5 separate regions of the Homo sapiens genome follow, and all the other regions are linked to region 1. Evidence: fine-mapped expression QTL. A gene starts in region 1. Each other region holds a variant in brackets. All regions are shown on one strand. Distances are between the middles of the regions. Region 1 holds the start of GFM2 (GTP dependent ribosome recycling factor mitochondrial 2). Region 2 overlaps HEXB (hexosaminidase subunit beta). Region 3 has its middle 4.5 kb from the start of LINC01335. Region 4 has its middle 13 kb from the start of HEXB. Region 5 overlaps GFM2 (GTP dependent ribosome recycling factor mitochondrial 2).

What was found. PIP is the estimated chance that this variant, and not a neighbour inherited with it, causes the effect.
Region 2: its variant is fine-mapped to the expression of GFM2 in whole blood (INTERVAL, PIP 0.99).
Region 3: its variant is fine-mapped to the expression of GFM2 in prefrontal cortex (GTEx, PIP 0.97).
Region 4: its variant is fine-mapped to the expression of GFM2 in liver (GTEx, PIP 0.99).
Region 5: its variant is fine-mapped to the expression of GFM2 in whole blood (TOPMed, PIP above 0.99).

The regions. Positions count from the first base shown.
Region 1 is chr5:74,763,909-74,770,387 of GRCh38, reverse strand. It overlaps GFM2 (GTP dependent ribosome recycling factor mitochondrial 2), which reads left to right and starts at 3,271. Exons shown (of 21, transcript NM_032380.5): 1 at 3,271-3,450. NSA2 (NSA2 ribosome biogenesis factor) reads right to left here and starts at 3,139. Exons shown (of 6, transcript NM_014886.6): 1 at 3,025-3,139; 2 at 1,270-1,457; 3 at 1,024-1,174. The coding sequence starts at 3,027. RefSeq lists an enhancer at 3,119-3,558.
Region 2 is chr5:74,706,677-74,713,155 of GRCh38, reverse strand. All of the region lies in intron 6 of HEXB (hexosaminidase subunit beta), which reads right to left. Among named protein-coding and RNA genes, the nearest start is that of HEXB, 25 kb to the right of the region's middle. RefSeq lists an enhancer at 5,986-6,479. The variant C/A (reference allele first, on the strand shown) is at 3,019.
Region 3 is chr5:74,309,627-74,316,105 of GRCh38, reverse strand. No RefSeq gene overlaps it. Among named protein-coding and RNA genes, the nearest start is that of LINC01335, 4.5 kb to the right of the region's middle. The variant G/A (reference allele first, on the strand shown) is at 3,937.
Region 4 is chr5:74,668,867-74,675,345 of GRCh38, reverse strand. It overlaps a transcript of HEXB not described here. Among named protein-coding and RNA genes, the nearest start is that of HEXB, 13 kb to the left of the region's middle. The variant C/A (reference allele first, on the strand shown) is at 3,231.
Region 5 is chr5:74,726,582-74,733,060 of GRCh38, reverse strand. GFM2 (GTP dependent ribosome recycling factor mitochondrial 2) reads left to right here. Exons shown (of 21, transcript NM_032380.5): 16 at 1-39; 17 at 2,663-2,801. Among named protein-coding and RNA genes, the nearest start is that of GFM2, 37 kb to the left of the region's middle. The variant G/A (reference allele first, on the strand shown) is at 2,793.

The sequences.
Region 1 (6,479 bases):
GTTATGGGTGAGAAAATACCACCTGTAATGTGGTGGTTTTTTTTTTTTTTTTTTTTAGATGGAGTCTCGCTCTGTTGCTCAGGCTGGAGTGCAGTGGTACAATCTTGGCTCACTGTGCAGCCTCCGCCTCCTGGGTACAAGCAATTCTCCTGTCTTAGCCTCCCGAGTAGCTGGGACTACAGACACACACCACCACACCCAGCTAATTTTTGTATTTTTAGTAGAGGTGGGGTTTCACCACATTGGTCAGGCTGGTCTTGAACTCCTGACCTCAGGTGATCCACCTGCCTTGGCTTCCCAAAGTGCTGGGATTACAGGCGTGAGTCACGGTGCCCAGCCGATAGTGACTTCTATAAGCAGTATATGTGTTTACTAATGTTTAATAGCATAATACTGGAAGAGTGTTTCCACCTCTTAATATGTCTCTGTATTTCTTCCCGAGATGGATCTGTAGATCACTAGCAAGACAAAATCCTCACCAGATGTTTTATGCCTCCCTTGAGTGCAAATTCTATGAAAAAACTGAAATAGTGTAAGGCAGTAAAAATAATTCTTTAAATATAAATACTGCATATTCTTTTATCTGGATTTCTGCTAATCTATTTACAGGTGTTTTAAAAAGCCACATTTTTTGTGACAACTCAGGGAGTTTTCCACCATTCTACTTTTTAACCAAGTTTGGCACTACAGGGCAGCACAAATAAGAAGCATTTGTATTTTTCTTTATGACTGCATAGCACTGTGGGTTTTCAAACAGGAAGACAAATATTGAATTTGAAATTCACTCCTTACCAGCTTTTTAATTTCATATGGCATTCTAATAAATTTTTTTTATAACTTAAATTTTAAAACCTTATGATGAGAAAGCAAGTTTTTTATTAAATTTACAAAGACTTCAACATCTAAATAATGGGAATAATAGCTGTACTTCATGTTTGAAATTAAACCGAGAAACAAGAACCTCAAATTTGAATTTAAGTAATTCTCCTAAACAAAACAAAGACTTCAATTGTTATTGCTTACCGCCTTCTCTTTTCTTTTCTGTTTAATCATATTGGAAAGTACTTTAGCTCGAGATTGTCCCTCTCTGTCCAGCAGATAGGCAGGTACTGCTCCCTGTGGTGTCTTTTCATCATTCTTTTGTTTGGTGTTTCTCTTTTCATGCATCTTGATACTACCAAGAAGGAAAAAAGATTCAAGATTATCTGTTTTAATAATGATTACTCAAAAGATGTTAACTTGTTATGACAAATAAATGAGACCACTTACGTCTTTTTCATTTGTATTTTCTCAGCATGACGCTGTTTATGGTAAAGCTTAGCCTTCAGACCAATCATTTTCTTTGCCTTCTTTGAACGTTCATGAGCCTCTCGACTTTCCTTCTTTCTCTTTTTCTCATGGTAATCCAAACGGTATCCATAGCGTTTACGGTGTAATTCAATATATTCATTCTGTGGCTATAATGATGGAAGAAATATTATTTTAATTTTTTAAAGTACTGACAATTATTCTAAAATGCTTTCTTTTACACAGCACAAAGACCCTGTTTCATCCAAATGTTCACTTACTTAAATGATTCTTGCACCATTAAGTTTATTCACATGATGTAAGTTAAATTTTGGTCTTGAATGATATGAGGCATCAGGGCTTACATCTCTAATAATCTCATTAGGGAATGGTCCAAAATCTACTGGACCACAAAAGGGATGAACTGATTACAGTATCTTTTTTCCTTGACATAATTTGCTTTTTTAATAACACCTTCATTTCACATTTAAAAAATTTAAGTCAGTTTTATTGAAGCATAATTTACACACAGTAAAACCTGTCCTTTTTAGGTATACAGTTCTAAGTTTTTCCTAACTACACAGTTCTGTAACCACCACAATCAAAATACAAAGAATTTCCATTTCCCCCTAAAATTCCCTATGTAACTTTTAAGTCAATCCTCTTTCCCAACCCTCAGTTTGATACCTATCCCTACAGTTTTGCCTTTCCCAGAATGAAACAGGGATCAACAGTAGTACATAGCCTTTTGAATCTGGTTTCTTGCTTTTGGGATTCACCCAATTTGCTGCAGGTATAGGAACTTCAATCCTTTTTATTGTTGAGTAGTATGCTATTGTATGGATACACCACTGTTTACCCGCTGACCAGATGATAGGTATCAGGGTTGTTCCCAGTTTTGGGTGATTACGAATAAATCTGCAATAAACAACTGCATGCAAGTCTTCATGTGGACGTGTGTTTACTGCCAGACCGTTTTCCAAAAGTGCATTATTTTTCTTTTCACCAGCAATGTATGGGATGCTTTTTGCATTTTAGACACGTTTTAAACACGCGGCCAGGCGTGAGTCTATTCGTATTTTAAGGCTGCAAAAATAAAAATGATACAAAGCCAAGTCCAGCACAGAGAGCAATGTTAAGTAACAACCAACAAGGTGTGCTGCTACCAACTGCTATCACATAAACTTTGCAGCAATCACATGAAGGGTGTATGGAATGCCATTTTGCAAAGAAACGCAGATTATAGAGACGTAACACAAAGAGAAAGGACCTGGCAGTTAGATCTGGGCCGTTAAGCCCGGCTTCGCAATTCATTAGCTGTCTGGTCTTTGGCAAGGACGCCTTCAGTTTCCTCAGCAGTAAAATGAAGGGGGCGGGACTGACATCTAAGACTGTACAAGGGACAACCATATTCCCATTAGGCTCTGGGGCTGATAACCACGCTTGTGGTGAAATCAGGAATTTTTAGGACTCTTAGCGGTGGATCAAAAAGAAAAAAGAAAACAGGACAGAGTAAAATCTTGCTCCAAAGCTTGTGTTCTGGCAAATACCGTCTGTGTCTCGAATGTGAAGTTGTTTCCACTCCTCAGAGCCCACCCCACGGGTCTACCATCCTTTTCTCTTGGCAGTTCTCATTTCCGCCTACCACCGCTCACCCCCTACCCCAGCGCCCCAGAGTCCTCAGGTCCCACTAACTCAGACGCTGTGTGTCGCGAGCGTCCGAGGCATCCTCCTTACCATGGTGACGGCCGCAGAGCCGCCAGGAGCAGCCGCTGGAGTGCGAAAACGCTCTCAATTTTCGGGTCTCAAAGACCCACAAGCCCACACCACGCAGGCCGGGACAGGAAAGAGTCACCCTTTAAAACGGCCGAGTGAAGAGCAAGAACCACGCAGCGGTTCCGAGCCTCTGTTTTCCGCTTTTAGCTAGGAGGACGGAAGTTGCTGGCAGGCGGCATTTGGCCGGTACACCGCCGGAAGTGTGGAGGTGTGGCTGCCCGAGGCGGTAGAGCGGAGAAAGCCTATTTTCTTTTCGTTTAGATACATTGCCTTTTGCCTAGGCTGGCGTCGAGACTTGAGGCCGTTGCAGACTTTGGCGCGGCTCGCGCCTCCTGCTTCAAGAGCCCAGCGGTGAGAGCTGGCCTGCGGCACGCGGCCTAATGCCAGGTGAGTACTGCTCCGAGCTGTGAGACATCGCGCGCCTGTGACCCTGTCACAGCGCTGGGTACCGCTGACCTTTCAGGCTGCGACGGACACAGCCAGCCACGGAAGAGGACAACAGGGCCTCCGGACTCCCCTCGGTGTTCGCTCAGTATGGAAGTTTTTCTCTATCATTCGGCGAAGTCGACTCATCTTTGTTCCGGTCACTCTGTGTAATGTGTGCATGATTGTGAAGGATACTGAGGAATGAAAACTTAGTGTACAGAAAAATGGAACTACTGGGGCTTTGCAGCTGTTAGAAAAGAAGAAGATAACATTCTGGTTTTTTGGAGGTACAGGACTGATTCCAGAAATTTCTGAGGCATTTTGGTGCACCGAATCAAATGCTGAGTGGACTTGTATTTAGTGGCCCCCTAGTGTCAAGAAGTAATTAACTACCAGAAAGTACGTCTACTTAAATACACTATCAGGTTTACCCTTTTACTGCACAGTTGCAGAAGTTCCCTTAATTACTTCACAGCTTGCAGCGTGATTCAGTTGATGAACAAAAAGAACTGTACCAAAAGAATACTTTCATTAATTCTTAGTGCTTGTATTTGAGGCAGTATTTTGTTTTTGTTTTTGTTTTTATGGGTATTTTGAGACGGCATCTCGCCCAGTCGCCCAGGCTGGAGTGCAGGGGCACGAGCTCGGCTCACCGCAGCCTCGACCTCCCGGGATCAAGCGATCCTCCGACCTCAGCCTCAAAAGTAGCGAGCTACAGGCTCGCGCCACGAAGCCTGGCTGATTTTTGTAGTTTTTGTAGAGATGAGGTTTCACCGTGTTGCCCAGGCTGGTCTCGAACTCCCGGGTACGAGCGATCCACCCGCCTCGGCCTCCCAAAGTGTTGGGATTACAGGCTTGAGCCACAGCGCCCGGCTTTGAGGCAGTTTTTGTTTTGTTTTGAGACGGAGTTTCAATCTTGTCGCACAGGCTGGAGTGCAAATGCGCCATCTCGTCTCACTGCAACCTCTGCCTCCCGGGTTCAAGCGATTCTCCAGGTTCAGCCTCCCAAGTAGCTGGAATTATAGGCGCTCGCCACCACACCCAGCTAATATTTTTGTATTTTTAGTAGAGATGGGGTTTCACCATGTTGGTCGGGCTGGTTTCGAACTCCTGACTTCAGGTGATCCACCTGCCTCGGCCTCCCAAAGTGCTGGAATTACAGGCGTGAGCCACCGAGCCCCGCCTTTGAAGCAGTTTTTTAAGGCTCCATTTTCTAAGGTGATCTCATCATTCTCTTTAAAACCAGAAATAGTAACTAGCATTTGTATATTTTAGGTACAGTACGTTATATAATCTCTTTGCCTTTAATGCGCCCCTCCCCGCCGTCCCTCAATCCCCCGAATTTCCTCCCTCATCTACTTCAGGTCTTTGCTTAAATGTCACTGTTTGAATGAGGCCTTCCTTGATCTCTTTACTTACAGTTCTAACTGTCCCAATTCCTCCTTCCTGCTTCATTCTTCTCTACAGCACCCTATCATCATGGGAGAGACTATGTATTGTATTCGTTACTTTTGTTTGTTGTCTGTATCCCCTGACTACGGTAGAGGCAGTATGAGGGCAGAGATTGTTGTCTTTTGTTCACTGCATTAACGCTGATATCTAGAAAGCAGTGGGTAGGCAGACACACAGTAAATTCTTGTTGAATAAATGGGAACGAATAGGCTTGGGCGGGGGAGGGCTGGGTTGTGCAAATTATCTTTTTATTGACAACCACTGAGTTAAAGAAGAGGAAAATGTCTATTACAGTCACAACTGTGGAGAGACTATGAGGCCCTGAACTTTGGCGTTACCAATGAAAAGGGAATGGATTCAAGGCCAGGCATGGTGGCTCACGCCTGTAATCCCAGCACTTTGGGAGGCCGAGGTGGGTAGATCACTTGAGGTCAGGAGTTCACGACCAGTCTGGCTAACATGGCGAAACCCCGTCTCTACTAAAAATACAAAAAGTAGCCAAGTGTGGTGGCACATGCCTGTAGTTCCAGCTACTCGGGAGGCTGAGGCAGGAGAATCGCTTGAACCCAGGAGGCAGAGGTTGCAGGGAGCTGAGATCAAGCCACTGCACTCCAGGCTTGGTGACAGGGCAAGACCCTGTCTCAAAAAAAAAAAAAAAAAAAAAAAAACAACAAAGGGAACAGATTCAAATATATTTAGGAAATCAAATGTAAGTATTAGATGACTTTCTAAATAAGAGTAGTGAATGTTTCTTAGCTAAGATCCAGAAAGAACAGACTTAGGAGTAGTAATGAGGTTTCACATATCTTAATAACATGGATCACAATGGTTTAACACAGGGGTGTCTAATCTTTTGGTTTCCCTGGGCCACACTGGAAGAATTGTCTTTGGCCACACATAAAATCACTAATGATAACTAACAATAGCTGATGAGCTAAAAAAAAATAAAAAAAACCTCATAATATTTTAAGAAAGTTTACGAATTTATGTTGGGCTGCATATAAAGATATCGTGGGCCGCATGTGGCCTGCAGGCCACGGGTTGGACAAGCTTGGTTTAACATGGTCTGTCTGTCTCCCCAGCATCCCCAGTCTCAGCTGCGTCCTTATATTTCTAATAGCTTTGATATTGTACTTGAAACATAGTGAATATTTAGCAAATGTTTTTAAACTAAAGATGCTTAGTTTCTATAATCAGAGAGGAAGAGGACTTGCTTTTATATATTTTTTACATGATTTAGTTTTTACATGGTATGGTAGGAAAATCAGAGTATACAAATGAATCAATAAATTTTACTGCCAATTAGAAATTACCAAGTTAATATGTGGATGCTTAGCTTTTTATGCTTAATTCTATACATTTACATAACAATGCATTTTGGTTGATACAATGTTTTGTAATTTCAATAAGTTGATTTCTACTGTATCGCCATATCTTTCTTTAAACATTACATTGACAAATAAGGGACATTTTAAACCTAAAAACCATATTTCTCATATTTAATCAGAATTTTCCATTTTCTGAATGATGCATTGAAT
Region 2 (6,479 bases), 57 kb after region 1:
CCTGTTTCAAGAGTTTCTACTATCATGCTGTTTCAACTTCCATGTAAGAATACAACAAAACAAATGTCTCCAAAGTGAAACTTCCGAAAACACTGCTCTTGTCAATTTTAGAGTCAAAATGCACACCTTATTACAAAGCATAGCTGTTGTCCTTCAAAGGACTATCAGCTTGAATTACTATAAGCTTGAAAAATTCCCATATAGACTCCAGAATAAGTGACTTGTTTTTTTTTAATGATTACCTCAGTCCCTTTATAGGTCACTTGAAAAATTAGAACTCAATATTGTTTGTAACTAAAGTTGTGAGCTGTTCCTTAGCACATTTCTCAAACTATGGCCTATAAGTGCTCAGTTGCGGAAAAGCAGTCTTGTCTCCCAGCACTGCAAATCAAATTTCTATCAAGACTAGATTCAACTACCAGTTTATAGTAAATACAGGGACATATTAATTGACACTGTGGGGTGCAATCAGCAAAACCCAGACTGTGGGAAACTGTAGGACACATGACTCAGTTTCTTCAACAACAATTACAGGAGAAAAAGGTGGGAAGAGCAGACCTGTAGATCAAAAAAGAATTACTAGACATATTAACTCACCACAATTATGGAGCTTATTTGTATCCCACTGCAAATGTTTTAAAATAATTTTTTAAATAAGAGAAAAAGACAGTTGGAGAAATGTGAATTTTTTTTTAAAATTTAAAGCATTTCTTTTTTTTATTATTATCATACTTTAAGTTTTAGGGTACATGTGCACAATGTGCAGGTTAGTTACGTATGTATACATGTGCCATGCTGGTGCGCTGCACCCACTAACTCGTCATCTAGCATTAGGTATATCTCCCAATGCTATCCCTCCCCCCTCCCCCACCCCACAACAGTCCCCAGTGTGTGATGTTCCCCTTCCTGTGTCCATGTGTTCTCATTGTTCAATTCCCACCTATGAGTGAGAATATGCGGTGTTTGGCTTTTTGTTCTTGTGATAGTTTACTGAGAATGATGATTTCCAATTTCATCCATGTCCCTACAAAGGACATGAACTCATCATTTTTTATGGCTGCATAGTATTCCATGGTGTATATGTGCCACATTTTCTTAATCCAGTCTATCATTGTTGGACATTTGGGTTGGTTCCAAGTCTTTGCTATTGTGAATAGTGCCACAATAAACATACGTGTGCATGTGTCTTTACAGCAGCATGATTTATAGTCCTTTGGGTATATACCCAGTAATGGGATGGCTGGGTCAAATGGTATTTCTAGTTCTAGATCCCTGAGGAATCGCCACACTGACTTCCACAATGGTTGAACTAGTTTACAGTCCCAACAGTGTAAAAGTGTTCCTATTTCTCCACATCCTCTCCAGCACCTGTTGTTTCCTGACTTTTTAATGATTGCCATTCTAAATGGTGTGAGATGGTATCTCATTGTGGTTTTGATTTGCATTTCTCTGACGGCCAGTGATGATGAGCATTTTTTCATGTGTTTTTTGTCTGCATAAATGTCTTCTTTTGAGAAGTGTCTGTTCATGTCCTTCACCCACTTTTTGATGGGGTTGTTTGTTTTTTTCTTGTAAATTTGTTTGTGTTCATTGTAGATTCTGGATATTTCCTTTGTCAGATGAGTAGGTTGCGAAAATTTTCTCCCATATTGTGGGTTGCCTGTTCACTCTGATGGTAGTTTCTTTTCCTGTGCAGAAGCTCTTTAGTTTAATTAGATCCCATTTGTCAATTTTGGCTTTTGTTGCCATTGCTTTTGGTGTTTTAGACATGAAGTCCTTGCCCATGCCTATGTCCTGAATGGTAATGCCTAGGTTTTCTTCTAGGGTTTTTATGGTTTTAGGTCTAACGTTTAAGTCTTTAATCCATCTTGAATTGATTTTTGTATAAGGTGTAAGGAAGGGATCCAGTTTCAGCTTTCTACATATGGCTAGCCAGTTTTCCCAGCACCATTTATTAAATAGGGAATCCTTTCCCCATTGCTTGTTTTTCTCAGGTTTGTCAAACATCAGATAGTTGTAGATATGCAGCGTTATTTCTGAGGGCTCTGTTCTGTTCCATTGATCTATATCTCTGTTTTGGTACCAGTACCATGCTGTTTTGGTTACTGTAGCCTTGTAGTATAGTTTGAAGTCAGGTAGCGTGATGCCTCCAGCTTTGTTCTTTTGGCTTAGGATTGACTTGGTAATGTGGGCTCTTTTTTGGTTCCATATGAACTTTCAAGTAGTTTTTTCCAATTCTGTGAAGAAAGTCATTGGTAGCTTGATGGGGATGGCATTGAATCTATAAATTACCTTGGGCAGTATGGCCATTTTCATGATATTGATTCTTCCTACCCATGAGCATGGAATTTTCTTCCATTTGTTTGTATCCTCTTTTATTTCATTGAGCAGTGGTTTGTAGTTCTCCTTGAAGAGGTCCTTCACATCCCTTGTAAGTTGGATTCCTAGGTATTTTATTCTCTTTGAAGCAATTGTGAATGGGAGTTCACTCATGATTTGGCTGTTTGTCTGTTATTGGTGTATAAGAATGCTTGTGATTTTTGCACATTGATTTTGTATCCTGAGACTTTGCTGAATTTGCTTATCAGCTTAAGGAGATTTTGGGCTGAGACAATGGGGTTTTCTAGATATACAATCATGTCATCTGCAAACAGGGACAATTTGACTTCCTCTTTTCCTAATTGAATACCTTTTATTTCCTTCTCCTGCCTAATTGCCCTGGCCAGAACTTCCAACACTATGTTGAACAGGAGTGGTGAGAGGGGGCATCCCTGTCTTGTGCCAGGTTTCAAAGGGAATGCTTCTAGTTTTTGCCCATTCAGTATGATATTGGCTGGGGGTTTGTCATAGATAGCTCTTATTATTTTGAGATATGTCCCATCAATACCTAATTTATTGAGAGTTTTTAGCATGAAGGGTTGTTGAATTTTGTCAAAGGCCTTTTCTGCATCCATTGAGATAATCATGTGGTTTTTGTCTTTGGTTCTGTTTATATGCTGGATTACATTTATTGATTTA[C/A]GTATATTGAACCAGGCTTGCGTCCCAGGGATGAAGCCCACTTGATCATGGTGGATAAGCTTTTTGATGTGCTGCTGGATTTGGTTTGCCAGTATTTTATTGAGGATTTTTGCATCAATGTTCATCATGGATATTGGTCTAAAATTCTCTTTTTTGGTTGTGTCTCTGCCCGGCTTTGGTATCAGGATGATGCTGGCCTCATAAAATGAGTTAGGGAGGATTCCCTCTTTTTCTATTGATTGGAATAGTTTCAGAAGGAATGGTACCAGTTCCTCCTTGTACCTCTGGTAGAATTCGGCTGTGAATCCATCTGGTCCTGGACTCTTTGGTTGATAAGCTATTGATTATTGCCACAATTTCAGCTCCTGTTATTGGTCTATTCAGAGATTCAACTTCTTCCTGGTTTAGTCTTGGGAGAGTATATGTGTGGAGGAATTTATCCATTTCTTCTAGATTTTCTAGTTTATTTGCATAGAGGTGTTTGTAGTATTCTCTGATGGTAGTTTGTATTTCTGTGGGATTGGTGGTGATATCCCCTTTATCATTTTTTATTGCGTCTATTTGATTCTTCTCTCTTTTTTTATTAGTCTTGCTAGCGTTCTATCAATTTTGTTGATCCTTTCAAAAAACCAGCTTCTGGATTCATTAATTTTTTGAAGGGTTTTTTGTGTGTCTATTTCCTTCAGTTCTGCTTTGATTTTAGTTATTTCTTGCCTTCTGCTAGCTTTTGAATGTGTTTGCTCTTGCTTTTCTAGTTCTTTTAATTGTGATGTTAGGGTGTCAATTTTGGATCTTTCCTGCTTTCTCTTGTGGGCATTTAGTGCTATAAATTTCCCTCTACACACTGCTTTGAATGTGTCCCAGAGATTCTGGTATGTTGTGTCTTTGTTCTTGTTGGTTTCAAAGAATATCTTTATTTCTGCCTTCATTTCGTTATGTACCCAGTAATCATTCAGGAGCAGGTTGTTCAGTTTCCATGTAGTTGAGCAGTTTTGAGTGAGTTCCTTAATCCTGAGTTCTAGCTTGATTGCACTGTGGTCTGAGAGATAGTTTGTTATAATTTCTGTTCTTTTACATTTGCTGAGGAGAGCTTTACTTCCAACTATGTGGTCAATTTTGGAATAGGTGTGGTGTGGTGCTGAAAAAAATGTATCTTCTGTTGATTTGGGGTGGAGAGTTCTGTAGATGTCTATTAGGTTCACTTGGTGCAGAGCTGAGTTCAATTCCTGGGTATCCTTGTTGACTTTCTGTCTCGTTGATCTGTCTAATGTTGACAGTAGGGTGTTAAAGTCTCCCATTATTAATGTGTGGGAGTCTAAGTCTCTTTGTAGGTCACTCAGGACTTGCTTTATGAATCTGGGTGCTCCTGTATTGGGTGCATATATATTTAGGATAGTTAGCTCTTCTTGTTGAATTGATCCCTTTACCATTATGTAATGGCCTTCTTTGTCTCTTTTGATCTTTGTTGGTTTAAAAGTCTGTTTTATCAGAGACTAGGATTGCAACCCCTGACTTTTTTTGTTTTCCATTTCCTTGGTAGATCTTCCTCCATCCTTTTATATCGAGCCTATGTGTGTCTCTGCCCGTGAGATGGGTTTCCTGAATCCAACACACTGATGGGTCTTGACTCTTTATCCAATTTGCCAGTCTGTGTCTTTTAATTGGAGCATTTAGTCCATTTACATTTAAAGTTAATATTGTTATGTGTGAATTTGATCCTGTCATTATGATGTTAGCTGGTTATTTTGCTTGTTAGTTGATGCAGTTTCTTCCTAGTCTCGATGGTCTTTACACTTTGGCATGATTTTGCAGCGGCTGGTACTGGTTGTTCCTTTCCATGTTTAGTGCTTCCTTCAGGAGCTCTTTCAGGGCAGGCCTGGTGGTGACAAAATCTCTCAGCATTTGCTTGTCTGTAAAGTATTTTATTTCTCCTTCACTTATGAAGCTTAGTTTGGCTGGATATGAAATTCTGGGTTGAAAATTCTTTTCTTTAAGAATGTTGAATATTGGCCCCCACTGTCTTCTGGCTTGTAGAGTTTCTGCCGAGAGATCCGCTGTTAGTCTGATGGGCTTCCCTTTGTGGGTAACCCGACCTTTCTCTCTGGCTGCCCTTAACATTTTTTCCTTCATTTCAACTTTGGTGAATCTGACAATTATGTGTCTTGGAGTTGCTCTTCTCGAGGAGTATGTTTGTGGCATTCTCTGTATTTCCTGCATCTGAATGTTGGCCTGCCTTGCTAGATTGGGGAAATTCTCCTGGATAATATCCTGCAGAGTAGGACTTGGTTCCATTCTCCCCGTCACTTTCACTTTCAGGTACACCAATCAGATGTAGATTTGGTCTTTTCACATAGTCCCATATTTCTTGGAGGCTTTGTTCATTTCTTTTTATTCTTTTTTCTCTAAACTTCCCTTCTCACTTCATTTCATTCATTTCATCTTCCATCACTGATACCCTTTCTTCCAGTTGATCACATCAGCTCCTGAGGCTTCTGCATTCTTCACGTAGTTCTCGAGCCTTGGCTTTCAGCTCCATCAGCTCCTTTAAGCCCTTCTCTGTATTGGTTATTCTAGTTGTACATTCGTCTAAATTTTTTTCAAAGTTTTTAACTTCTTTGCCTTTGGTTTGAATTTCCTCCTGTAGCTCGTAGTTTGATCTTCTGAAGCCTTCTTCTCTCAACTCATCAAAGTCATTCTCCGTCCAGCTTTGTTCCATTGCTGGTGAGGAACTGCGATCCTTTGGAAGAAGAGAGGTGCTCTGCTTTTTAGAGTTTCCAGTTTTTCTGCTCTGTTTTTTCCCCATCTTTGTGGTTTTATCTACTTTTGGTCTTTGATGATGGTGATGTACAGATGGGTTTTTGGTGTGGATGTCCTTTCTGTTTGTTAGTTTTCCTTCTAACAGACAGGACCCTCAGCTGCAGGTCTGTTGGAGTTTGCTAGAGGTCCACTCCAGACCCTGTTTGCCTGGGTATCAGCAGCGGTGTCTGCAGAACAGTGGTTTTTCGTGAACCGTGAATGCTGCTGTCTGATCGTTCCTCTGGAAGTTTTGTCTCAGAGGAATACCCGGCTGTGTGAGGTGTCAGTCTGCCCCTACTGGGGGGTGCCTCCCAGTTAGGCTGCTCAGGGATCAGGGACCCACTTGAGGAGGCAGTCTGCCCGTTCTCAGATCTCCAGCTGTGTGCTGGGAGAACCACTGCTCTCTTCAAAGCTGTCAGACGGGGACATTTAAGTCTGCAGAGGTTACTGCTGTCTTTTTGTTTGTCTGTGCCCTGCCCCCAGAGGTGGAGCCTACAGAGGCAGGCAGGCCTCCTTGAGCTGTGGTGGGCTCCACCCAGGTGGAGCTTCCCGGCTGCTCTGTTTACCTAAGCAAGCCTGGGCAATGGCGGGCACCCCTCCCCCAGCCTCGCTGCCGCCTTGCAGTTTGATCTCAGACTTCTGTGCTAGCAATCAGCGAGACTCCG
Region 3 (6,479 bases), 450 kb after region 1:
AGCTCTGTTACAAGTGATCCTTGCTGTGAAATGGTGCTTATACTGCCCGTGTAACTGGGAGACAATGCACACACATTTGCACAGTCTTCTTTAAAATAGAGCAGGCTAGGGTTTGTTCTTATTATCAATTTGCAATAAATTTAGCTCTGTCATTCAGTTGACCAGACGGCTTCTTTTCATCCATTTTCTCTCTCTCCTACCCTTTGCTCTGATTTTTAAGAACTGAGGACATTAGATTCCATATTTCTACCCTCAGAATGTAAGGTGGCACTTGAAATACTAGATTCATGGAGGCATTCTTAAAGCTTCAACTCTAAGTACATAAGTAATAAAAACGATTATTTTTATATTGAAATATGTGGACTTATGGGCAAAAATGAAAGATTATCACAAGCATGAGACTTTGAAGAAGCCATTCACTTGTTGAAGGCATTTGGGCTCACCCTTCAAGTGATGTATTGGCTCCCTCTGCCCTTGAGAGATTTTGGTGGAAAAGTTTGAGAACTGCCCTATGACTTGGTGACCCTTGGTGACCTTTGACTGTCTCTATACCAATTCTTGGAAGAGCAGTGATTTCTTGTGGACCACATGCCTCGCAAAATTGGGAGATATGGATTTGGGGAAAGGCTGAGCAGATTCTAACCTGGCAAAATTTCAGATACATAGTTATGTAATCATAATTATTCCCACTATAGTGGGCCATATTGATTAGCTGCAATAAGAGAAATATAGGTGACCAGAGGTGGTGATGAGATCAGCTTGTCTTCACGTTGAGGACTAATATTCTTCAATATGGTTCTTTTCATATTCTAATTCTCTGCATTAACCAGACCATATATGTTCATAATCAAAAAAGTGTATTAATTTATGATTGTATTCTCCCTGAATTTAACTATCTCATACCTAGAACTTTCTAAGGTGTGGTAAAATTGTTTACTTTGATCATTATCTCTTTCCCAAGAGGCCAAGTAGGAAAGTCAGCACTGGGTTGACCAGAGAGCTGGTAACACTGGATGGTTCACATACCATTTGCATGTTTCTTATTTGGTAGGCTCCAGGTACTTCTTTTGACCACTTTACTAGCCATGGGTTATGCACTGAGGTTGAGTTGTAGATTTTCACATGCAGAGGAAGAAATAAATGCTCCTGCTGTCCTTGGGCTCCCAGTGACTGGGAAGAATGGCAGGTACCTTATTAAGAAGTTGGGCAAATGCTGACACATTCACATTTTGTGTAGGTAGGAATATTGCACACATGTTTGTGTGGCTACAGTTCACAGACACAGTGTCAGCTTCTTCCTGGTTCTGATGGTTGGGCAAAGCTACAGTCCTGGGGAGGGGGCTCTGAGATAGTCAATAGATGTATATTTAGCTTCCAATTTTAAAATCATTACTATTTCTTTTAGCTAGGCTAAGAAATTTAACTTCTTGACATATCAGTTTGCATAATGGAGAGATATGATATCCATCTCAAGAGACAATTGTTGAGATAATGCATGTGCATGAACTAAGCACAGGGTCTGGTATGTAGTAGGTGCTCAATAAATGATAGATGTGCCAGAAGTTCTAAAACCTCCAAGGTATGTAGCGTCAAGGTAATAATAATATTCCCTCCCTCCCTAAACAAACATCAAAAGACCCCAAAACTAAAAATTCCAGCCAAGCAGAAGGCTGAATGCCAGCATATTCTGGAGACAGGGGAGAGCATCCTCTGTGCAGATACCATGTCACTAGTCATCCCTGTGTGCTAAGCCAATGAGACACAAGGATGAGTTATTAGCATAATCTCACTTTGAAACTTCTGCTCACAGAGAATAGCACTATCTTCAAGATGGTAAATAAGCTCAAAGGGATTTAATTTACCAAATGAAATGTGGATAATACTGTTTTATCTTTCAGAGAAGACATGTTGCTGCCTTTATAACCTCAGTAATGAGGCTATTACCATCTTAGAGCGACTCGCTCCTGAGTTCTGATTGAGTTCTGAGGGAGCAGTAGGCCACACATCTGCTGATTCATCTGCAGAAGTCATGCCCTCCGTTTAGCCATCTCGGGCAACTCCCTCAGTTGTGCATTGCTGTCTCAGGCGGAAGGAAAAGGCAGAGAGGAAGGGGACTGAGGGGAGGGTAATGGGATGCTGGGCTCACTGCTGTATTTTGTAAAACCATTATTATTCTTCATTGCCATGAGAGTGTCCTCATTTCTACACAATATTTTATACTCAATTAATTCCTGGATGTATCATCAGAGACTAATGTGTTTTGTGTGTATACTGACTAACCTGGGATGTGTTTTATGTTGTTATCTGTTTATATCATATTCTTTCAGCCAGCAGTAACATATTAATTGCTCATTTGGAGAATAGAATGGCTATACTGGAACCATCTTTCTTTGCTTAATTTAGTTCCTCTGTTCTTATTGAAAATGCCATTGGCAATGGGGATCAAGAGCCAAGGATTCTACTGTGATGTATTTGTGTATGTTAGATATTGAGTTATTTATTCATCTTCAAGTTCCTAGTTCTGTTGATAAAATAGGTGTCGACAAAAAAAGTCAAACTCTGTAAAATATTTGAGGAGATTTATTCTGAGCCAAATGTAAGTGACCAATGGCCTGTGACACAGCCCCAGGAGATCCTGAGAATATGTGTCCAAAGGTGGTTGGGCTACAGCTTGGTTTTATACATTTTAGGGAGACATAAGACATCAAATCAATACATGTAGGATGTACATTGGTTTGGTCTGGAAAGGCGGGAGAACTGGAAGTGGAGGGCAGGGGGATTGGGAGTTGAGGTGGTGGTGTTTCCAGGTCATAGATGGATTCAAAGATTTTTTTTTTTTCTGAGACAGAGGCTTGCTCTGTCACCCAGGCTGGAATGCAGTGGCACAATCTCAGCTCACTGCAACCTCCATCTCCTGGGTTCAGGCAATTCTCTGGTTTCAGCCTCCTGGGTAACAGGGACTACAGGTGCACTCCACCACACCCGGCTAATTTTTTGTAGTTTTAGCAGAGATGGGGTTTTGTAGTGTTGCCCAGGCTTGCCTTGAACTCCTGAGCTCAGGCAACCTGCCTGCCTTGGCTTCCCAAAGTGTTAGGATTACAGGCATGAGCCACCATGCCTGGCCAGATTCAAAGATTTTTTCATAGGCAATTGGTTGAAAGAGTTATTATCTAAGGACCTGGAATGTCTGGTTTATAGAAAGAATGTCTGGGTTACGAAGAGGTTCTGAAGACCAAGGTTTTGTCATGCAGAGGAAGCCTCCAGCAGCAGGCTTCAGAGAGAATAGATTGTAAATATTACTTATCAGGCTTAAGAGTCTGTTCTATCAATCTTAAGGTCTCTGTATTGATGTTAAAGCTGGTCAGCTGTGCTTGAATTCCAACAGGAAGGAAGGTATAATGAGGCATGTCCAGCTCCCTCTTCCCATCATGGCCTGAGCTAGTTTTTAGGTAAAATTTGGAATGCCCCCGGCTGAGAGGATGGGTCCCTTCAGATGGTTGAGGAACTTAGAATTTTAGTTTTGGTTTATATTCACAGGATTGAGAAATGATTATCAGAAGCCCAGAATCTGTGAGCTCCTCTGATGTAGAGAGGCACTGTGGCTGTGTAAAACATCACGATAGGGACCCATGTCCCCAAGTCCTGATTGATTCAGATGGCATCCGGTTTTTTTAGTCCTTACTTGGTTTCACTGCCTAGTAATGTAAGATTTCATAGGTTTGATAAATTCCTATTAGACAGTCATTGATTGCATGAGGCAAATAACTGGGTCAGAGATCTGTTGTGGGTTTTGAGCTCTCCCTGGAGGGTTAATGGGCCTGCCTGTTGAGGACAGGACATTCTTCCACATCCCTTGGCCACAGTCCCCTCACTGTCTTCCTGGCGGACCTCTGCAAGAGCTGTTGGAAGGATTGAACTGACAGACATCAGAGGTTT[G/A]CAGAGGCCAAATAGCCTTCTTTCCAACAGTGATTTGGTAATAGGCTTCTGCTCTTTTGTTTCTTGCTCAATTGCTAAAGTTTTGGGTACAGTTCTTGAAGGATTCATAGGTGCCTGAAAAGCCAATACATTCTTCCACATTGCCCTGTGCTTAGTGGTTATGCTTTTCCTCTTTATCAGCAGGAGTTAGAAAACAAGCAGATTTTCCCTCTGAGATTCTCAGTATTGTTCTGGGTTCTATTAAAATGCTGGGTTAGTTTTCAGAGGGATTGCTTCATCCTTTGAGCAATTAGTACCTTTTAAAAATTCTGACATCTTTCAGACCCTGTCCTGCAGACCCCACTAAAGTGCTTTTGTCAGAACAGTTTTAGCAGTCCTAGATCATGTTTTGCCAGCTGCTCCAGCCAGCGGTACAGAGAAAACACTTAAGCATATGGTTCAGATGCTTGCATTTTTATCTGGGTAAAATCTGTGTGAAAAGGCCCCAGAGTTTAAAAAGCCAATCAGTGTATATGATGTCAGAATGCTCACTGTTTGTCTCATTTTCTTAACATCCTGGTGTGATCTTCTAGGTGTGTCTAATTGTTCCAAAGGCACAGCTGTGTGGATTTGATTTCCCTACAAAAAAAAAAAAAAAAAAAAAAAAAAAGCCATATCCTCCAATGTCAGGGAACAGTCTATGACTTCCCTTCTGGTTCTCACCTTGGAATTTCTATGAAGCCCCCAGACTTCAAACTCTTTTGGCGGCAAAGTAGAAAGCATTTTTCCTTCAGCCTTAAAGGCTGACTTTTGATACCTTTGAACTTATCCTGAAGAACAAGGACCATTCAGAATTGATCTCATCACTCGGACTTTTAAGCATGTTCATAGCTCAGCGCTAAAAGGAAAAAAAACGGAGGGAGAAGAAAGGAAATCTTCACTGATCTTTCCTTTGTACATACTTGTGTGACCCTTTCATGCAGGCTTTTGTGGGGGCGTTGCAGCAAAAGATTGTTTTGCCTCAGAGAACAATTCTTTTGAGACACAACAGACTTATTTTCCTGGAGCTGAAATGAGTAGTTCAGCATTGACGTTTAAGGCACCCTCTGAGTCTGATCCTGGGGAAGCGGGAAGCTACTATTTGTAGTTGGAAAAAATATCAACCTCAGATGAAGCAAATCATAGACTCTACTGTTTCCTCAAGTTACTCAAGGTCAATAATGTCAAAGATACTCGCTAAGCAGTGGGCATATTCCTCTAGGTAACGTTCTGACACGATCCATTATTCAAGTCAGGCAACAAAGCTGCCAAAATCCAGAGAGGACAGACATTTGTGATGAACTTTCATCCTGAGAACTACCTTCTTGAATGAGTAGGCTATGGCCTCTCCCCATTACCTCTTTGTCCTCTATGGAAAGGATCAAAGTGTCTGAGACTGGAGTGCCTGCTCTGTGCCTAGATTGGAAAACTAGGCTGGTTTGATTTACCTACAGAAAAAGCCTGTGGCTAGAAACCAACTTTTCCCACAGCTGCCCGGTCCAGCTCCACCTCTCCTTGGGAAGGCGTCTCTCCTTGATTTGGAGATTTCCTGCAACACACTATCCTGACAGGTGACTCAGCTGCCAAACTTCCCTTCCTGGACCAATTGCACTGCTGTTGAAGCACTTATAAAGTATATGACCTAGTCTCAATTATTAGTACTCACAGAAGAGAGCAATGATGTAAAGCAAAAAACAGACCCAGCTAGCAGTCACTTCCCAGAACATGTGCTTTTGAATTGCTATGTTTTCTACTGCCGGGGTATGAGCTTTCCTAACACCAGCATAAATATCACCCACACAGCCATTTCTTATGTTTTTTATTAGATATTGTTTTTGCAGTTGATAGGAGTCAAAGAAGGTCCTTATAAAGCTTTGTCTCAGGGAGTCTGTGTCAGTAATAAGTGACAGGAAACTCAAAAAGGCTTAAGCAGAAAAGGGAATGTATTAATGAAAGGTATTCAGGGCTTCAGAATGATAGATTTGGGGGCTTAGGTTAGTTAATCACAACTGTTATTATCATCATATTTTGACTTGGTCATTTTTTTTTTGTAAGCTTAAAAGTGTCAACTCCATGTGACAGCAAGATAGTTCTTAGTTTCAAATCCAGCAAGCAATAAGAGTGACTCTTTCCCTCACAAACACCTCAGAAGAAAACTCTAAGGTATCTCATTGTCCCTGTTGGGTTAAATGTCCTTTCTAAGCCAGTTATTGAAAAATGTAATAATCATGTTGGGTGGTCTGAATCACATGTCACAATGAGCTTGTGTTATGGTCATCTCCCTGGAACCATGTAGACTGAAAATAGGAGATGAATGGATTTCTAAATGAAGATGGGGACTGTTTCCACAAGAAGTGGAAGTAGAAACTGGGTGTGACTAAGAGTACACATGTTCACTTTAGGCACAGATACAGCTAAGCAACCATACCTTCTCTAATGGTGCCAACTTCATAGCAGGCTATATCTGCCATGACTTAGTAAAAGGGGAAGAGAGGAAGATGTGTAGAGATGAATAAAACAGAATC
Region 4 (6,479 bases), 95 kb after region 1:
CTGGACCTCCATAGCCCAGTTCTAGCAAGAATCCAGATAATTAGTTTAGTAAGAATCCCCCACTGTTGATATTTAATTGCTCTCGATACCTGATTAAATTTCTCATCCCCATCCTTGATGTCTGATCACCCTGGCCTGCCTTCAGCAGGAATCCTCTTACCTTTGATGGTTCCTTTTAATAAATTGCCATCCACTGACCCCCTCACTCTGCTGGTTGCTTATAAATTTCCAGCTGTCTTTGCAATATTCAGAGTTCAGCCTGATCTGACTCCCATGTTGCAATAGTCTTGACACCTATTGGAATAGTCCTGAATAAAGGCTTCCTTATCATTTTGACAGGTGTCCAAATAATTTTTTCTTTACCACAACTTATTTAGATAATATCCTCACAATATCTGTGGATCAGCTAGCTATGGGAAATGAGGAAAAGAGGAATTTAGGAAATTTATCAGATTTCTAGCTCAGACTTACAGGTAGATAATCTATCAGTCATTCAATGCTTAGTTACAGAGAACTGAGAAAATAAATAAAATTTAGAAGCTTTTTGGAACCTCCAAAAATGCCTTAAGCCTTGACAGAGATGTGACTGTGATCCGCATCACATATGCTTACAACTTCTGTTCTCAGATTATAGATTAGCTTACTTTCTTATTTTTCTCATTCTGTATAATGACTAGAGATAAATAAATGGCATCTGAGATAAAAACCTCCTTTCTTCTTCTTCTTTTTTTTTTTTTTTTCTGAGACAGAGTCTTGCTCTGTCTCCCAGACTGGAGTGCAGTGGCGCAATCTCAGCTCACTGCAAGCTCCGCCTCCCGGGTTCACGCCATTCTCCTGCCTCAGCCTCCTGAGCAGCTGGGACGACAGGCGCCTGCCACCATACCTGGCTAATTTTTTCGTATTTTTAGTAGAGACGGGGTTTCACCATGTTAGCCAGGATGGTCTCGATCTCCTGACCTTGTGATCTGCCCGCCTCGGCCTCCCAAAGTGCCGGGATTACAGGCTTGAGCCACCACGCCTGGCTGAAAACCTCCTTTCTTCTTAATTGATGACCTTGGACTCTTGTTATAGATTTAACTTCCCCTTTGTTCTAGTTTGTTTAGACCAAATGACAAACAACCAATGATTATTACACCCTCTGTTAAAAAATGTCAAATGTACCCTTCTCAAAAAGAAACATGGCCTATAGCCAATTAAATTGCTATAAGAATGTGCCAGACTCACATGAATAATAATGTTGTAATTCTGCTAAAAATTCCTCTGTTCCCACCTATACAAATGAAATATTTACTTCCCTGCTTCTGAATGCCAACTCCATTCCTTTGGAGTTGGTGTTTCTGGGTGGTTCATCCTCACACTTTGAGTATAACTAAATTCTGACCCTTTTGATTATTGTAGATTGACAGAACAGAATCCACTCCAGCTAGCTTTAGGAGGAATTAACTAATTACAGAGTATCGAGTGGCTCACAGAATCCTTGTGAGAGCTGAAGAACTTGGCTCTTGGCTGAAATTTCTTGAGTAACTGCTCTTGTCATGACCAGGAAGCTGCATGCCGGATGGAGAAGCCTCTGCTATAGGTGCTAACTCTAGAATTACACCATTTCAGCTCCAGTCTACACAGCAAAGGGATACGTCATGCCCTGTCTCAGTCTCCACCTAACTCACTTCTGAATTCAAGGCTCATGCAATCACATCTAATGAGCAGAAACTAAAGAACATGGAACCCCAGCAGCAAGGGAGTCTGGGAAGTGTAGTTGCCAGCCTCTGTTCTACCGGAGGACACACTGGGAGGAGGGGAGATGGATGGATGCCTAGTGAGCCACTTCAGCATCCCCATGGACAGTGATACAATTTGTTGAGGTGGGTGGACAGCCTAGGACCTGGGCAGACAAGCAAGCAAAGCTGCCTAACTCCTGCAGAAGTGGGAACATTCTGTGGCAGGGACGGAGCTCCTGAAATTAGATGATCACATTTTTCTACTCTCATGACATATCCATAAGCAACCCGAAATATTTGTGAATTCTGTCACTGCAATTATGAAAACTGAGATTGAGTGCCATCTGGCAAGGGGGAGCTAAACTGGCCTGTCCAGAAGGGCAAGAAGACGGCTTGGAGTTAAATCTGCTCTGGCAACTGGCAAGCATTTCTCCCTGCTTTGCTAAAATTAGCCACAAAAACAACTTTCTCTTCCTTATCTATTAAACAGTGCCATCTGGTGGGAATCCACACTATCTTGTTCCCCAATTCTCTACCTTTTCTATTAATGAATACTATTTATATAATTTGGGTATTCATTTGATCTGTTAATGCAGACCAAGTACCAAGATGCTAAGAAAAAAAAATCTGAATCCATCTGGAAACATTTTGGTGACCAAAGGCTGCTCTGATGCCACAAGAAGCAAACCTTCTAAGGTTTCTAAATCCAAAGTCTCCAGACTGGGGGCAAAGTTCATGTTGGCAACTGCATGTCTCCTACCCCTCTTAAAAATAGTCCTTCTTAACCTTCCTTCCACTCTCTACGATTTGTCTTGTATATGAGATGATGGAGAAAGCTGAACCGGGAGGGGACTGGGAAATGTAATAGACAAAGGACTTAATTTGACGTGTGGATATGAACAAGGAGGTGTGACAGGACATCTCTCAGGGAAGCAGAAATGGCACTAGCTACCCAGTGCAGGGTTTGCTAAGAGGGCATTGCTGTCAGTTGGCATGTCAGCCTGCCCTCTCCTCCCTTTTAAAGAAGTCTAGAGAGAGGTGGGGAGTTTGTCTTCGTGAGAGAGAATGTTCTTGGGGGCTAGGGATTGGAATTTGGTTCTGCTCTCTGTCAGAGGCATTCAGTGTGGTCTATAGCTTCAGAGGCTGTGGATCTGACTCTGGGGCATGGAGTGAGGGCTCACTTCTCACCAGGACTTACAGGCAGGCAGCTGGCACTGGTGGAAGTGCTCTGGGCAATATTGGCACGAAGAGCTGTGCAGTGTGCAAAGGACCAGAAAGCTCAGCTGGAAGCCTCCAGAGGCAAGTGGAAAAATAACTGCTTTTTTGTTGAAGATATGCTGGTTAGCTGAGGGGACACTGGGCTTCCCTGGAGGGCTGCCCTATTGGAGCAAGGAGTACATTCCCTGAAGGGCTCGCAGTGTGTACCACAGGCAGGGAGATGGATGAGGGGCATGTGGTGACCACTTTGACAGTTCACAAAGTCATGACGCTAGAGAGGGGTCAGGGTGGGGG[C/A]TATTGCCTGAGAACAAGCATCACATATATCGGGATAGCAGAAGCCTGGATCAGACTGCAAGCTTTGCAGGAACAAAGCACACAGACCTCATCAGCCCAAATTCCAGTGTGAGGCACAGAAGCAGGAATAACCAACAGCAAACGAGTGGCCGCCACCTATTCTCACCAAGGCGCCGGTCTCCATGTGAGGAGAATACTTTCCTAGCATTCACCAAGGAGTCCTCCCATTGCAGACAGACAGAATCGGACACCCAGGAAGCATCTCAGGTATCATGGGACCTGGGATTTTTAACCTCACTGTGCATCAGGCTCATCTTGAGAGCTTTGAAAAAAATATCAGTGTTTGAGTTTTGGCCCAGATCTATTAGAAAAGAATCAGCAAGTATAAGATAAAATTTATTTTTACAGTTTTACTGAGTGTGATTGACATACAATAAATTGCCTATATTTAAAGTATACAATTTGGTAAGTTTTAGATACATGGCGGTGGAACCATTGCCACAATCAGATATTGGACATACCCATCACTCCCCTTGTTTCTTCAGGCCCTTTTGCAATCTCCCCGCTTCACCCTTCTCTCCCCTCCCTGCCCCTGGCCCTACCTTCCATCCAGACAAGTACTGATCTGCTTTCTGTCACTACAGGTTAGTTTGCATTTTCTAGAATTGTATACAAATGTACCATATGGCTTTTTTTTTTGTCTGGTTTCTTTTACTCAGCATAATTATTTTGAGATTCATCCAGGTTGTAGTGCGTATCCACAGTTTATTCCTGTTATTGCTGAGTAGTACTCAGGGTGTGGAATTTGTTTATCCATTTACTAGTTGATGGACCTTTGGGTTGTTTCCAGTACTCAAGGGTTCAGTGGACGTAAGGTCTGATGAATACATAAGATTAATGAGGAGACGATTATTATTTTTATGGGTCTTGGAACACTTTGTTGCCAGTACTCTTGTGGCATTGTTGTCCCTTACTGTAGTTGTTTTTTTACCATCAGTCTTTCTGTGTACCACCCTATCCCTTGAGGATAACAATAATACTGATATAGGACTTTTCTCGGTCACTTTGCTGGCTGAAGACTTCCTGTCAGGAGACTTCCTGCCAGCCTTGCTGGGACCTGGGATTGCTGCAGAGATGCTCTGTCCACTTGGCCTCCTGGGCTGCACCCGGCCTGCATTCTGGTACAGATCCTGCAGCCACCGTGACTATGTGCTTGGCCCCTGGTGGGAGGGGGTGTGTGAGCGAGCAAGTGCGGGGTCCAGCCAATTGTTCCAAGCAGCACAGGAGCAGGCTCTGTGTGGGTCTTGTGGCTGGACCAGGCGTGTTGCAAACCACTCCCACAGTGGACTCCAGCATCTAAACAAGAGGAATGCAGTGGCGCCCGGGCAGGTGCACCCATGACCCCAAAGTCCCAGAGGGGGTGTTACAGAGTGCTAATTAGCTCTTTTAGTCTTGCCATCCACAGCCTGACTGACAGCATGTTAACAGTTCTGTTAGCATCTTGCCCCACCCTGGCTGGCAGCTCTGGGGGCTGGCTTGGCCCTGCTGCTACTTCCTGTTACATGAGGCAGCTGCGCTTCACTGGCGGAGGGCAGAGGGCCACAGTAGTACAGCCTTCTGTGTATTCGCATTTGGTGGGTCTTGGGTTCTTGTTTCACCTCTGAGAAGAATGAAATTGGGCTGACAATTGAAGGGCGAGGAGGGTGGAGAATAATTTTATTGAGCAATAAAATAGCTCTCAGCAGAGAGGGGACGTGAGGGTGGTCCCCCGCCTGAAGTTGATGGTTTCTCTCAGTGTGGCTGAGTCCAGGGCTTTTATGGGCTCAGAATAGGGAGTGTGTACTGACTGGTTTGTGAGTAGGCAAAAAAAAAAAAGAGGCTAAAACAAAGGCACCACTCACAGGTGGGCATGAGAGTGTACAAAAAAAACCAGTTAGGGAAGTGTAGGTATATGTAAAATAGGTGAAGGGTGGGGATCAATCAGAGGAAAGTGCACCAAACAGGAAGAGAGGTTCTCAATCAGTCCATGGATTTATGCAAGACTAGTACCTTGGCTTTCAGGCTTCAAACTCTCTTTGGTTTGAAGGTCAGGTTTCACTGGGGACCCACCCCTGTCTGCCTAGGATTGGTCTGCCTCCTGCTGCTATCAACACGTCTTCCACAGTTTTATATCACTTATGGTATTGCACATGGGAAGTTCTTGTTAACCTGGGGCTCCTGGCCTGTCTCTGCATCGCCCACTACCTTCTAGTTCTTTTTCTCCCCAGTCTCTTACTTATTTCCCCCAGTGTTCAGCCAAATTGAGATATGACTTTTCATTGTCTTATGAGGCCCTGAACTTCCGTTTTGCTGTCTTTATGCCAAGACCACACTGTCTTCCCTGGAAATCCTCCCTCTCTCCTCTGCCAGCCACTTGGCACCCTGTATCCCTAGCTCTGCTTGTCAACATTCTACAGTCAGCATGGTGCTGGTTTAAGAAGAGGCAAACAGATCGATGATGTAGGATTGATATCCTGATATAGATCCTATTCAGTGTAAAAATTTAATTTATGCTGGAGGAGACATGACAGATCAGGGAGAAAGAGAAGGATTTTCAATAAATAGCAAAGGAAGAATTGATGAGTTCCCTAGGGAAAAATCAATTTAGATAATTATCTCAGTCCTCCCAAAATTAATTCCAGATTTATTGATAAGGTAAGTTACTTAAAACCTAGAAGAAATTGAAAGTGCATATTTATCAAATCTGTGGTAGAAGGAGGACTGTCTCCCTTTTAGCTTAGATTTGAATAATGCTCATAACTGAAAAAAAAAATAGTTAAATTAAATTTTGTATGTCGAAAAAGTAACCTAAATTTAAAGGTACTCTTTGAACTTTAAAAAATACCATGGCAAACACAGCTAGTGATGGCATAGTATATTTACTATATGAAGTGCTCACACTTTGGAACCAGCCTGGCTAACATGGTGAAATCCCATTTCTATTAAAAATACAAAAAATTAATAGGGCGTGGTGGTGTGCTCCTGTCATCCCAGCTACTAGGGAGGAGACTTGCTTGAACCCGGGAGGCAGAGGTTGTGGTGAGCCGAGATTGTGCTGTTGAACTCCAGCCTGGGCAATAAGAGCAAAACTCTGTCTCAGAAAAAGGAAAAGAAAAGAAAAAAATGCCCGCACAAACCAATAAACATTCTGTAGAAAAATGGACAGAAGACTTGCATCCAAATAAGGAAATGCAATTGTTTAATGAACAT
Region 5 (6,479 bases), 37 kb after region 1:
CCCAGTTTGAAAGTGAGGCTAGATCCTGACTCTGGACAAGTAGGTATATTATTGCTAAACTCCAGAAGCCTTTCTATAAGAGTGTGTGTGTGTGTGTGTGTGTGTGTGTGTGTGTGTGTGTGTGTGTGTGTGTCTAAAACATTAAGTCTGTGTCCTGAAAGAAAAACCTTTCTTTTTAAATTCTCTCATAATACAAATTTCTGCTTTTATGTTGACTATCAAGCTAAATAAGCAAATTTTCCTTATATAATTACACTTCACATTTATAAACTATTTCCCAACATTTTTTACCATTCCTGAAGACAGCTTTTTGTGAAATTTTGAAATAAGGTTTAATCAAGGCAAAGCCTTGAGCCTTTTACGTTAAGGCTTATAAAAGAAGCATACTAGAAGGAGGATTGGAAGGTGCTTTTGAAGACAGTAAAACACCTAAAATGGGAGAGAAGTGATAGATTACAATGTAACACTGTGAGAGGAAGTGGAGTTTTAAAGTAGGTGCAGAACTGTGCTGTATAATATAGCACAGTAGAACAGATGTTTTGATTCATCAAGAAATGATTAAATTACATTCTGCATCCTCTTTTTAGGAGGACAGGGTAATGTTTACATAAGATTTTAGAAGGAGTTTCTTAAAAAGGTTATAAATTTATCTTTAAAAAGGATAAACTGATTTAGTTAACCTGGAAAAGCATGGAGTACTTTGTTTTCCCAAAATGCCAGCCAAATGAGGTAGTAATTTAGTTTAATTGATACTGAAGAGTATGATAACAGTAATTAAAACAGAAATGTTTTATTTTAAAAAACCTATTATTTAAATAATTGAAATGTAATCCCAGCACTTTGGGAGGATTGCTTGAGCCCAGGAGTTCAAGACCAGCCTGGGCAACATAAGGAAACCCTGTCTCTACAAAAAAAAAAAAAAAAAAAAAAAATTAAAAATTAGCCAGGCATGATGGCATACACCTGTGGTCCCAGCGACTCAGGATGCTGAGGTGGGAAGGTTGCTTAAACCTGGGAGGTCAAGGCCACAGTGAGCTGTGATCATACCACTGCACTCTAGTCTGGGTGACAGAGCGAGACCCTGTCTTGAAAAAAATAAATAAAAATAAATAAAATAAAAACTGGCACTACGTTTAAAAAAAAAAAAAGCAAATAATACACAAATCTACCAAGTAAATAATTAAGTCCGTTTCTCTGTTCCTCCATCTCATTCTGCAGAATAACCACTGAAAACTTGGTGAATAGCCTTTCACACTTTTTACCCAAACATATGTTCTTCTGCTGTGCTGTTATGCAGCAGCATAATATAGTTTTGCAAGTATATATGTACAGATACCTATAAACAAGTCATTTTATTTGTATTATTTTACAACTATTTTCCCCAAATAGTTCACTTTTTAACTTAAAGTATAGCAGTCCTATACCAAGTGATTTTTTTTTAAATTTGTGATTACAGTTTTATTACAGCAAAAGGATTTAAATTAGGATCAGCCAAAGAGACACTTAGAGCAAAGTCTGGGAGGGTTTTAAACATTTGCAATGCTTCCTTTATCCTCAGGGACATGTTACCCTCTTGGCAGAGTATTGCCAACCAGGGAAGCTCACCCGAGCCTTTGGTGGCCAGAATTATTATTGGGGCTTGATCATACTGTCCATGTAGTTGACCTTTAGTCTCCAGTCCCTTCCATAGATTCAAGCTAATACGCTAATACCTTTAGTCTTCATTGGTTCAAAAAAGATAAAAGTCAGTTTCTCCCTCATATGAAGGTTCAAGCTAGTCTGAAGGTTTTGACTGCTTACAAAGCTGTAAAGTGCCCTGGATGATTGGGAAATGCCCATGTTGTTGGGAAAGGTTTTTTAGAAAGGTTATTCCCCCCATTTACAAGGTATAGCCCTCATTCTGATGTGTCATGACAGTTGCCTACATTTTCGTTAAGAAAGGGGCTTTGGCCGGGTGCGGTGGCTCACGCCTGTAATCCCACCTCTTTGGGAGGCCGAGGCAGGTGGATTACCTGAGGTCACGAGTTCGAGACCAGCCTGACCAACATGGAGAAACCCCATCTCTACTAAAAATACAAAATTAGCCAGGTGTGGTGGCACATGCCTGTAATCCCAGCTGCTTGGGAGGCTGAGGCAGGAGAATCATTCGAACCTGGGAGGTGGAGGTTGCAGTGAGCCGAGATCATGCCATTGCACTCCAGCCTGGGCAACAAGAGCGAAACTCCATCTCAAAATAAATAAATAAATAAATAAAAAATAAAAGGGGCTTTACCCTCCTCTTATAGGCACCACCCAGAAGCTGTCCACATCAATTATATTCATCTTCCATTGGCCAGAAATTTGGCTTTGCGGTTGGGAAGTGTTGGTATTTAGCTAAGTGTTGGCATCATTAGTCTTAGCCAGATGCTACTTGCCCAGCAGATAATTCAACTATCAAAGAAGAAGGAGAGAATGGCCAGGTAATTCATTGTTTATTGATTCATTATTCCAGTCAGAAAAGTCAAAAGCAATGTTTTGATGTAAAAGCCCCGGGCCAAAAAGAATTACAAAGGAAACTGTAATTAATTAAAAATAAGTATGTATTAACATCATACTTTTATATAGTATTCTGCAATAAATATAATTTACCCTTAATCTTTTATTTCATTCCTCTGGTAACCAGACTGTTCTGTGTGGTATGGGGGAGTTACATATAGAGATTATTCATGATCGAATCAAGAGGGAATATGGACTGGAGACCTATCTCGGGCCTCTCCAGGTGGCATATCGAGAGACCATCCTAAACTCAGTTC[G/A]TGCCACAGGTAAAAAGTAAAACATTTAGGATTTGCTTTTTCTCTCTTTCTGTCTTTCTTTCTCTATTTAGTTGCTGAAAGCAGTGTTCATAGTCACTAATGTCTTCTATCAGAGGAGACAGTTTTTATGTATGTGGGGTTTTTTTGTTTTTTTAGGATTTTGTTTTGAATACAGAAAGCCCTATTTGATTATCAGCCATAACATCTCCTGGATGACCACTCATCAACCAAGTGTCCTTTTCAGTGGTCATGGAATAGAGTAAGCCACTGAAGTCGATGGCTTGTCCCAGTCCTCACTATCAGAACTAGTCTAAGAATTTGAAGTCAATGTGTTATTTTTACTCTATAAAGTAAAAGTAGAAAGTCAGTTTCAGTACTTAATAAATATGATTATTCTATGCTGATAGTAATCTTGAGAAACTATAGTTTTTATACTTCTATTCCCAAATGTAAAAACTCACAATTTTTCTGCATATGATTTTAATTTGGTTCCCTTAAGCCAAAAAACATGACAACAATTATTGCTACTCACCCCCAAGAAGAAAGTGTGGAAAGGTTTGTGGGAAATTGTTTAAAAAAAAAAAAAAAAAGACGTTTAGGATAACCAGGTACTTTCAAGTTCCTCATTAGTTTGTGAGAAGTCCTGATGGTTACATTTCACTGAAACTTGAAAAATTAAGCAGAATACAGGAGCAAATAGCATGAGGCGTTCTCTTTCTGGACTGTTTATCTGGAAAAACTAAAAATGCTAGAGAACTCAAAATAACAACTTTTAATGTCTGAGCTGACTAGAATGTAATAGAATTTTCCAGAAGTCAAAAAGGAAGTAGGAGTAGTAATCTGGGAAAATAAGTCAGCACTATAGGCTAGAGTTATTCTGGAAGAATCTGTAATTGTCTCTAACCTAGTGCTTGAGAGCCATATCCTCATGGAAAGAATTAACTAGGAAAAGTCCTTTCCACAAAAGCAGAGGGCAAGGAAACTTGCTTGTCTGGCTGTATGGTAAGGGAACAAGATTTCTGAGAATTTGTAATCATAGGCTTCTGATACAGGTCTTTAGCCTAAGTTCATAGAACCAGTGTGCCCTGAAAAACTCCAGACCAAGAAGAACTTAGTTCTTTAGTGTAAAGTGCTCATGGCTTGGTAGTATCCCAAGGAACCTGGAAAAAAGGGCTTCTCCAAAGATATCATCAACCCAGGCCTCAGATGCCACACATGGCCAGGTCTGGTGGCTCACGCCTGTAATCCCAGCACTTTGGGAAGCTGAGGTGGGCAGATCACGAAGTCTGGAGTTCGAGACCAGCCTGGCCAATATGGTGACCCCGTTTCTACTAAAAATACAAAAACTAGCTGGGAATGGTGGCGAGTGCCTATAATCCCAGCTACTCAGGAGGATGAGGCAGGAGAATTGCTTGAATCCCAGAGGCGAAGTTGCAGTGAGCTGAGATCGTGCCATTACACTCCAACCCAGGCAACAGAGTGAGACGCCATCTCAAAAAAAAAAAAAAAAAAAAAAAAAAGAAACCCCCACACATAAAAGAATATTAACTCATAATAAAATTAAATCAGAAAACCATGAGAAAAAGCACAATGAGCAAAAAGGCAATAGAAACAATAGGTAGTCATACCAGCAAAGGCTTCAGTTATTGGAATTATGAGATGTAGAATATAAAATACTATCTTTGAAGAAATAAGAGAGGCGATAGAAAGTACAGTTGACCCTTGAACAACATGGGTTTAAAGTATGTATGCAGGTACACTTACACATGGATTATTGTCCTGCCTTTGCCATCCCTCAGACAGCAAGCCAAACCCCTCCTTTTCTTACTCCTCAGGCTATTCAGTGCAAAGATGACGAGGATAAAGACCTTTATGATGTTCTACTTTTACTTAATAAATAGTAAATATATTTTCTCTTACGATTTTCTTGGTAACTTTTTTTTCTAGTTTATTGTAAAAATACAATATAAAATACATGTAACGTGTTAATTGACTGTTTATTTGTTGGTAAGTCTTCCTGTTAACAGTATTCTATAGTAGTTAAGTTTCAGGGGAGTCAAAATTTAGGCATGTATTTTTTACTGCATGGGGGTTTAGCACGCCTAGCCCCCACATTATTCAAGGGCCACTTGTGTTAGTAAGGAACAAGAAACGATCAAAAATAGGTGCGATGGGCATGATCTCACATATGTGGAACTTTTAAAAGTCTAACTTGTAGAAGAGTAGAATGATGGCTACCAGAGGCTGAGGATTGGAAAGCTGGGGAAAGGAGAGATGTTGATGAAGTGGGGTACGGAGTTTCAGCTGGACAGGAGAAATAGGTTCTCATGATCTGTTACACAGCACAGTGACTATAGTTAATAATTTATATTTTAAATCTCAGTACAAAGAAATAAGTTTTTTGACATGATAGATGTTAATTTGCCTGATTTTTATCATTCCACGATGTATACATGTATTGAAACATCACATACCCCATAAATATATACAATTATTTGTTAATTAAAAATGAAATAAAACATAAGAAAGGATAATGGAATATCATGCTATGTGTGAGAGAGGAAATGGTCAAAAAATGATGGTGAGGGGGTATATAAGGACACAGGAACCAGCTTGAAGAGACTCTGCTGGCCAAATCTGGATTAATTTGAATACCAAGTATAGACCATTGGGAAAAAATAGTTTCTAAGTTCATACTTATAATAATACATAGGTAAATAGGGAAGAAGAGGGAGGGGTCTTCCTCATAGTGGAATGCCAAGTGCTGACTGTTAGAAGTTGGGGAGTAGGGCTGGAGTCGGAAAATAGTGCAGACGACTCTCCCAAACACATAGAACAAAAAAGTTGCCGTATACATATGGCATAACAAATTTAAAATGAAGCAGAAGTAAACTATTGCTTAGAAATACATGCATATGTGATATAACACTAAAGAAAATAATGAGGATAACATATGATAGTGGTTGCTTCAGAAGGCATCTAAATATTGGTAATACTCTCTTTAGTAGTTTTAGGTTTCATGAATGCTCATTTTTAGCTTGTACATAAATATGTATATACTCATATATAAACGTATATTTATATATAAACATGTATATATTGAGACAATGTCTTGCTCTGTTGAGCAGGCTGGCATACAATGGCAAGATCTTAGCTGACTGTAGCCTTGAACTCCTGGGCTCCAGCAATCCTCCCGCCTCAGTCTCCCAAGTAGCTAGGACTACAGGTGTGCACTACCATACTCAGCTAATTTTTATTATTTTTTACAGAGACGGAGTCTTGCTATATTGCCCAGGCTAGTCTCAAATTCCTGGCCTCAAGTAATCCTCCCACTTTGGCTTCCCAAAGTGCTGGGTGGGATTACAGGTGTAAGCCACCACATCCAGCCTGTATAATTTTAAATAGAAAATGTTTCACAGTATAAAACGTAAGCATACAAAGGAATTATGAAGAATTATAGACTATAATTCTTAGTTTTGAATTTGGGCCATGAATCACTGCATTACATGGTCCCTCACATAAATATGGCATAGTTTTGTTTTAGTAAAATATTGGAGATTGGTAACAGACATAGTAAAATATTGGAGATTGTTGGTTTTTAGCAAATAAGAGATGCTGTTTTCAATCTTACCAAAAACACTTTACTGGTTTTTTGGGAAAGAAATTGTAAACAGTAAGTGCATAAAA